2 separate regions of the Homo sapiens genome follow, and region 1 is linked to region 2. The links come from fine-mapping of genetic effects on gene expression. A gene starts in region 2. The other region holds a variant in brackets. All regions are shown on one strand. Distances are from middle to middle.

Region 1 (4,388 bases), 110 kb before region 2:
AAAGTGAAAAGATCAAACCGAAAAATAAAACGTCACTCAATACCACCAATAAGTAAATCTTTGCATTTTGCCATGTTTGCTCCAGAATGCTTTTTGTAAGAAAGAAAATATTGCAAATAATGGGTACAGCCCTCTTCTGTCTGCCCCCACACACCTTTAAATTTTTACCACATGTCCACAGACACATGCCACAGCTGTAAGTTTTAACCTAAATAGTAACATGTGGGACACATCTGACTGCAACTTGTTTCCTTTTTTTTTTTTTTTTTTTTTGAGACAGAATCTCACTCTGTTGTCCAGGCTGGAGCGCAATGGCACGATCTCATCTCACTGCAACCTCGCCTCCTGGGTTCAAGCAATTCTGCCTCAGCCTCCCAAGAAGCTAGGATTACAGGCACCTGCCACCAAGCCCGGCTAATTTTTTGTTGTATTTTTAGTAAAGATGGGGTTTCACCATGTTGGCCAGGCTGGTCTCGAACTCCTGACCTCAAGTGATCCACCCACCTCAGCCTTCCAAAGTGTTGAGATTACAGGCGTGAGCCACATGCCTGTCCCTGCAACTTGTTTCTTTATTCAGCCATGTATTTTTGAGACTGACACCGGGTGAAACATGCACATATGGTTCGTTCATTGTAACTGATGTGAAATGATTTATCATATAAACACATCAGCCTACCTACCCATGACTTTGCAAATGAAGAATGACAAGCGCCTACTTTTTCAAAACTACAAACTGTGACTCAATGACCATCTCTGTATGTGTTGCCTGGTCCCGGAGAACAACCACCTCCACCTCTAGCACCAGGGATTTCCTACTTCCCACAATCTTGCTACTTGATGCCACCACACTTACTTGCCTTCAGTGTGACCTGCTATCTAAATACATCATGCTGCATTTACCTCATCAACAGTAAGGCTGAACATCTTGGCCCTGTGCAGGCAGCTCCCAAAATGGCCCAACGACCCCCACTTCCTGGTGTTCACACCCTGTGTGACTCCTTCCCTGAGTGGGGGTGGGACCCGGTGACTTGCCCGTAATGAACAGATTCCAGCAAAAGTCATGGAATGCCACTCCTGAGAGCAGCTATAAAACACTGTGGCTTCTGCCTGGCTGGCACTCTCTCAAAAGTCCAGTGCCATGCTGTGAGCTGTCCTGTGAAGAGCCCCATGGAGCAGGGGACTAAGGATAACGTCCAGACAAAGGCCAAGGAGGAACCGAGTCCTGCCATCCCCATGGGAGGGAGCTCGGAAGTGGCTCCTTCTCCAGTGGAGCCCTCGGATACACGAGTGCATTTAAGTTGCTAAGTTTTGGGGTTACTTGCTATGCAGCAATAGATAGCTAACACGTTTATGAGCCATTTCTAACTTTTATACATTCTAAACATCTTCAAAATGTGACTCAGGCCTTTGTTTCATGGTGACTTCTGTGCTACATGTAAGTTTGTGTGTGTTGACTTCCTATCAGGAAAGTTTTCAAACATACACGAAAGCACAGTAATGAGCTCCCATGTTCTTATCACCAGTGTCAACAATTATCAACATTCTGCCTTTCTTGTCACAGACTACACAAGATTTAACTTTTAATTAATTGATCATTCTTTCCCTTTGTGATGTTTTTCACATGTGCCTTAAAAAAGCCCTTCCCACCCCAGCATCATAGTCTCCTGAGTTGTTTACCAAAGATTGTAGTTTC[C/CTT]TTTTTTTTTTTTTTTTTTTTTTTAAAGACACAGGGGTCTCGCTCTGTCACCTAGGCTGGAGTGCAGTGGTCATCTTGGCTCACCGCAGCCTCAACCTCCCAGGCTCAAGTGATCCTCCCACCTCAGCCTCCCAAGTAGCTGGGACTACAGGCATGCACAACCATGCCTAATGTTGTGCCGGATTTTTTTTGTAGAGACGAGACCTCCCTATGTTGCCCAGGCTCGTCTGGAACTTCTGGGCTCAACTGATCCTCCTTCCTTGGACTCCCAAAGCACTGCAATTACAGGCATGAGCCATCACACTCAGCCTTAGTTTCACACTCAGTGTGATACAACAACTTACTTCTCCAAATATGAAAAACCATTTTCACCAGCATCACTCACTGCAGTCCACTCTCTCCTTAACGATCTGTGACCTACCAACTTCCGACTAACAGGGGAGTCTGTTTCTAGGCTCCCAATCGGCTCTACTGCTCTCCTCTCATCTTGTCAAGATGCCATGATAGTGTGTCTCGTTACATAGTAAGATCAACGTGCCCTCCTTATTCTTCAAAATTCTTTGGTTATTCTTATCCTTACCCTTTATATGAATTTTAGGATTCGTCTGTCAAGTTCTATCCAAAAAGCTTTTGGCAGATTCTTTTTTATTGGAATTACACTGAATTTTATGAATTAATATGGGGCAAACTGCCATATTTTAATACTGAGTCCTTTCATCTGTAAAGATGGTACCTCTTTTTGTTACTTAGGTAAATTTTTATATGTTCAATAAAGTTGTGTATAGGCCAGGCATGGTGGCTCACACCTGTAATCCCAGTGCTTTGGGGGGGGCCCAGGCAGGAGGATCACTTGAGCCCAAGAGTTTAAGATCAGCCTGGGCAACAGTGAGACCCAGCCTCTACAAAAAATACATAGCCAGGTGTGGTGGTGCACACTTGCAGTCTCAGCTACTCAGGAGGCTGAGGTGGGAGGATAACGTGAGATTAAGAGTTCTAGGCTGTAGGGAGCCATGATCTTGCCACCGCACTCTAGCCTGGGTGACAAAGGAAGACCATGTCTCAAAAAGAAAAAAGTTGTGTAATTTTTTCTGTAAAAGTCTTACACACATTGTTACCATGAATTTATTCCTTAGTACATTATTTATTGCTATTGTAAATGGTATCTTTCAAAAAATATTTTGTTTCTAGTATAAATGAAAGCAATAGACTTTTATATCTTACCTTGGTATCTAATTGTTGCTGAAATACATATAAGTTAACACAAAATCTAGGTTTCCTTACATTTTCTGTTAACAAATTACATCGCCTGTAAATAATAAGTTGATGTCTCCCTTTTCAATCCTTAATTCTTTTTCTGGTTTAATTATGCTGGCTAGGATCTCCAAACTGTTTTGAACAGAAGCAGTGGTTAACAGGCATCCATTTCTTACTCCTTACTTCAATGCTTCCAGTGTTTTGTGGTTAAGTATGAGGTCTGCTGTTAGGTTTCAAGAACACTTTATCAGGTTAAGAAACATCTCATCTATTCTGATTTTGATTGTTCAAACTTTAACATGAGCAGATGTTAAAGTTTTACCGCATGTTGTTTCTGCATCTATTGGAGATGATCTTACGAGCCTTCTCCTTTAATGATGAATTAGTGGATTTCTCCCAAGAAAAACTAACCTGGCAAATTCTAAAATTAAACAGTGCTTGCTATTCCCAGCATAAGTCCTAGTTGGTCATATTGTTATTGTTCATGTATGTTGATATTTTTTCATCTATTGTTCATGGCCCGTAACTTTCCTTTCCTGTTTTCAATTATGTTACCAAAGTAACAAGGATTGCCAAGGTTACCAAATGAGCTAAGGGTTTTTTTTTTCCTTTTTCTCTTAAAAATCATTTGGGTTTGATGTTTCTTTTACACTTATTTTTTTTCGTCTCTTTTTTTTTTCTTTTTGTGGAGAACGGGGTCTCGCTATATTGCCCAGGCAGGTCTCGAACTCCTGGGCTCAAGCTATCCTCCCGCCTCTGCCTCCCTGAGAGCTGGGATTACAGGTGTGAGCCACTGCGCCTGGCCTGTTTCTTTTTAAGTGTCAATTTCTGTAATGGTTAAAGTTCTATTCAGGTTTTTATTACTTCTTAGGTCAGTGCATAACTTGAGGATACTGTCCGTTCCATCTATGTTTTCCAACTGTTTAGCAGAAAATGGGAATCCTTCCATTTTTTTAGGCTTTACTATATCTATAATGATGTCTGTTTTCATTAAAATAAAAAACTCTGTCCTGAAAAAGATGTGACCAGCCAGGACAACATGACAAAACCTTGTCTCTACAAAAAATTACAAAAATTAGCTGGATGTGGTGGTGTGCGCCTATAGTCCCAGCTATGCAGGAGGCTGAGGCAGGTGGATCAATTGAGCCTGGGAGGTCAAGGCTGCAGTGAGCCATGACTGCGCCACTGTACTCCAGCCTGGGTGACACAATGAGACCCTGTCTCAAAAGAAAAGAAAAAGATGTGACTATTTTCCTAAGTCTTTTCAAAGAACAACATTTTGGTTGTATTGTTTGTTTCACTCATTCTGGCTCAATTTTGTAACCTCTTTCTTTTCTTTCTTGAGTTGGGTTCTCCCTGTGTTGCCCAGGCTGGGGTGAAGTGCCTATTCACAGGTGCCATCATAGCCCACTACAACCTCAAATTCCTGGGCTCAAGCAAT
Region 2 (4,388 bases):
TCACGCAGAGTGGCACCCCGGGGCACCCACGTGGCAGAGAGGATCGCTGCGGAGTGGCACCCCGGGGCACCCACGTGGCAGAGTGGATCATGCAGAGTGGCACCCCGGGGCACCCACGTGGCAGAGAGGATCGCTGCGGAGTGGCACCCCGGGGTATCAGTGTGCAAGTTTAACCATTTGAGTTATTTCAGTTTCTGGTAATTACAAATAAAGTTGCTATGAACATTAAATATGGGTTTTTGTGTGAAAATAGTTTTCATTTGTCTAATAAAAGCTCAGGAATGCAGGGCAGGTTTAACTTCCTAAAAACCTGCCAGGCTGATTCCCAGAGTAGCTGCACCACTTACCGTCCCCACCTGCAATGCACGAGGCCCAGTTTCTCTAAATCTCTGCTGACTATATATATGTATACTATATGTGCTATATGATATACACGTATCATATGCCATGATATACGTATATTATACATCATATATAAAAACATATTTTTATATAAAATAAATCAGTATTTTTTTATTTCAGCCATTCTCAAAACACCACCCTCACCCGCCGCCACCTTGTCCGCAGCTCTGCCTGGATGATGCCGCTGGTGACAGTAACAGCACTCAGAGGTGCTTAACACATACCAAGTGCTGCACTTACCCAACTCCCAAAAAAGCCTAACCAGGTATCACTATCATCCCCATTCCTAAAAGAGCAGGCTGAAAACAGGTTAAGCCCACAGCAATAAGTGGTAGGGCCCGGTGCGATGGCTCACACCTGTAATCCCAGCATTTTGGGAAGCTGAGGCAGGTGGATCACCTGAGGTCAGGAATTCGAGACCATCCTGGCCAACATGGTGAAACCCCGTCTCTATTAAAAATACAAAAATTAGCCGGGCGTGGTGGCAGGCGCCTGTAATCCCAGCTACTCGGGAGGCTGATGCAGGAGAATCGCTTGAACCCGGGAGGCGGAGCTTGCAGTGAGCCGAGATCGCGCCACTGCACTCCAGCCTGGGCCACAGGGCGAGACTACATTTCAAAAAAAAAAAAAAAAAAAAGTGGTAGGGCCGAGACACAAACTCACACAATTGGACAGGAATCCCCACTCAATCATCAGAAAGCACCTCTCCGCAGTGACTAACAGTCTGACAATTTAGAGTAAAAACAAACTCAGTTTCTCCCACTAGTCTTGCAACATGCTTCGGACACCAGGTATGTGGGGATTTTCTCCCCACAAATCACGCAGGTCGTCAGTTCTGCAGTGGACACAGGCTGGGTGTCGTCTGTCATCCTAATTCAGTCATCTATTCTGACAGCGTCTTCCTGGAGATACCAGCAGACCCCCACAGGTTAACGGCTCAGCCCCGCAAGACTGCCCCCCACTTCCAGTGCCCAGGTTGTTTGACCTGCGCTTGGGACCGACGGGGCGTAACCCGGTGACCTCCTCAGGTTGCGGTAATTTGCTAGAGTGGCTCCCGAACTCACAGACATGTTTTACTTACACTTACCAGCAGAGTATAAAGGATTACAAAGAATACAGGTGAAGAGATGCGTGACGTAAAACCGGGGGGAAGCGCTTGGAAATTCAGGGCCTCTCTGGGCACCGCCTCCAGGAACCCCCACGTACTATCTGGAAGCTCCCTGAACCCAGCCCTTTTGGGTTTTTACAGGAACTTCATTTCACAGGCGTGATTCATCAGCCACTGGTGATCAACGCAACCTTCACCCCTCTCTCCTCCCCAGAGGTTGGGGGTGGGGCTGAAAGTCCCCAGAACCTCTAACCCTGCCTTGGTCTTTCCTGCGACCAGCCCCATCCAGAAGCTCCCTAGGGGCTGCCGGCCACCAGTCCACTCAGCCTACAAAAGACATCACTTTGGAGGTTCCCGGGATTTCAAGAGTTGTATGCCAGGAAAAGGGGATGGAGCTGAAATACACAGTTCACTGTATCAGTTACCTCAAACTTAAAACGACCAAAACCCACCTCTGATCTCCACATCACCCAGACCCGACAGTCTACCGCAAAGCAATAAATGGCCACCTTCTCCCTCTTCCTCTGGCCCCAAACCCCTGAGTTACATTTGCCTTTTCCGTCTCTGCCTTATGTTCCATGACCAGTAACCGCAATGGCTTCACGTTCCAAACACATCCGGGACCCAGGGGTTTCCTCCCCGCGCCGCCCTCCTTTGGGCCATCCCTCCCCAGGTCTCGAGAGACCGCAGCAAGAGTCTCCGCTAACGCCTCGCCGGGCCCCCGCCGCCTTCCCCGGAGGCTGCTCCAGGGCCCGGGAAAGCTCTCACCCCCGAACCCGGCGTGGCCCCTCCGCCCCCGGCCCGGGAAGCCAAGTCCCCGCAACTGCCCTTTCCGCGGCCGGAATGGCCTTTCCCGACCGGCCCTGGTTTCCCCGGCCGCCTCGCCCAACTGCTGCCGGCTCCAGGGGCGCGGCCGGGACCCCAGGCCCGAGGAGGGCGTCGGGGCGGGGAAGGGGCCAGGGTGCGGGGACCCAGCGACCGCCTGGGCCTTACCTGAGGCGGGGGCGGCGGCCGCGCTTGGCGGAGGAACTGGGGTCCCGCTGCGGCCCAGACCTCCCGGCCGCGGGCCCAGCCGCCGCACCAGCCACCGCACAGCGATCAGCAGCACCGAGGCGCCCAGCAGCTCCCAGGCCAGCGCCGCCCACTCGGCCGCCGCCAGCCGCGGCCACAGCATCGCCGCCGCCCGGGCCGCAGCCGCCGAGAAGCCCGCGCCCCGCGCCGCGCCCGTCCCAGGACCCCGCGCCGGGCTGCCCGCGCCCTGCCTGACGGCGCCGCGCTCGAGGCGGCCGGGGCGGCGCGGGGGACACGGACGGCGGCCCCGCTCGCGGAGGCCCGGCGAGGGCGCGGCCCCGGCCCTGGGACCCAAGCGGGCGGGAACGGGCGAGCGGACGGGCGGGCGCGGCAGGCGGGGCGCGGGCAGCCCGACGCGGGGTCCTGGGACCGGCGAGGCGCGGGGAGCGCAATGTGCTGGCGGGGGCCGGGGCTGGGGCCCGGGGAGGCCACCAGGGCGGGGCCGGGCGCGGGGCGGCGCTTCTTCGCGCCTCCCGGCCCCGGCCTGGCGTCCGTGGGGCGCTGTGCGTCTCCGAGAACGAAGCGGCCTCCGGGTTCGTGTGCTCCGAGCCCGAGTACTGTTTGCGGCCGTCGTCCCGTCCTGGAGCAGGAGTGAGGAAGCGCCTCTCACTCCCCCGCGAACCCGCAGAACAGGCCGCCGGCGCTATGGAGACCGGCGGAGCTTCCCGCTCCTTCACCAAGGGGCCCTGACGCGCAGTTGAAAGCGCGGATTTTGCCGGGCGCGGCGGCTGCGTCCGGAGTCCCAGCGCCTTGGGAGGCGAGGCGGGAGGATCCCCACGGCCCGGGAGCTCGAGACCAGCCCGGGCAAATATTTTGAAAGTCATGGTAAAAGCCGCAATTACTTTTGCACCAACCTAATAGTGAGACCCTGTCTCGAAAAAGGGAAGGAGGATTTTACTGTATGTAATTTAGATGTTTTATTTATTTTTTGATGCGGTGTCTTGCTCTGTCGCCCAGGCTGAAGTGCAGTGGCGCGATCTCGGCTCACTGCAGCCTCCGCCTCCTGGGCTCAAGCGATTCTCCTGCCTCAGCCTCCCAAGTAGCTGGGATTACAGGTGCCCACCACCACGCCTGGCTAATTTTTGCATGTTTAGTAGAGACGGGGTTTCCTCATGTTGGCCAGACTGGTCTCGAATTCTTGATGTCAAGTGATCCACCAGCCTCGGCCTCCCAAAGTGCTGGGATTACAGGCGTGAGCCACCGCGCCCCGCCTAATTTAGATATTATTAAATGAAAATGAAAGACCTGAAAAATATAATTGATATCCTTGGTTAAAAACATAATTGATCTGAGCGAGGTGGCTCAGGTCTGTAGTCTCAGCAACTCTGGAGCGTGAGGGGTGATGGTAGTTTCAGTCCGGGAGTTCGAGGCTGCCATGAGCGTGATCTCGCCTGTGAATAGCCACTGCACGCCAGCCTGACCAACATAGCAAGACCCCATCTCTTAAAAAATATCATTGGATGGTACTAATGGTTGGTTGGGCACTACAGAAGAAAGGGTCAGTAATTTTGAAGATGGATGAAATGGAAATTCAAACCACGATGAGATGCTGCTTGAAATCCACCAGAATGGCTAAAATTTAAAAATTGGCAATATCAAATTTTGCTGGCAAGAGCAAACACTGAGTTAACCACCTTGGAAAATAGTGAGGCAGTTTCTTTCAAAGTTAAACGTACACCTCTGCTGTATTCTGAGTGTCTGTCCCCAGCGTTCGTATGTTGAAACCCTAACCCCCCTTGGCCGGGCGTGGTGGCTCACGCCTGTAATCCCAGCACTTTGGGAGGCCGAGGCGGGCAGATCACGAGGT

What was found. PIP is the estimated chance that this variant, and not a neighbour inherited with it, causes the effect.
Region 1: its variant is the best candidate, but not a certain one, in a credible set for the expression of ANKLE2 in lymphoblastoid cells (GEUVADIS, PIP 0.61).

The regions. Positions count from the first base shown.
Region 1 is chr12:132,650,621-132,655,008 of GRCh38, forward strand. The region is part of intron 29 of POLE (DNA polymerase epsilon, catalytic subunit); the gene reads right to left. Among named protein-coding and RNA genes, the nearest start is that of P2RX2, 34 kb to the left of the region's middle. The variant C/CTT (reference allele first, on the strand shown) is at 1,694.
Region 2 is chr12:132,759,115-132,763,502 of GRCh38, forward strand. ANKLE2 (ankyrin repeat and LEM domain containing 2) reads right to left here and starts at 2,718. Exons shown (of 13, transcript NM_015114.3): 1 at 2,504-2,718. The coding sequence starts at 2,684. RefSeq lists enhancers at 2,064-2,932, 3,287-3,386 and silencers at 2,167-2,756, 2,847-3,136.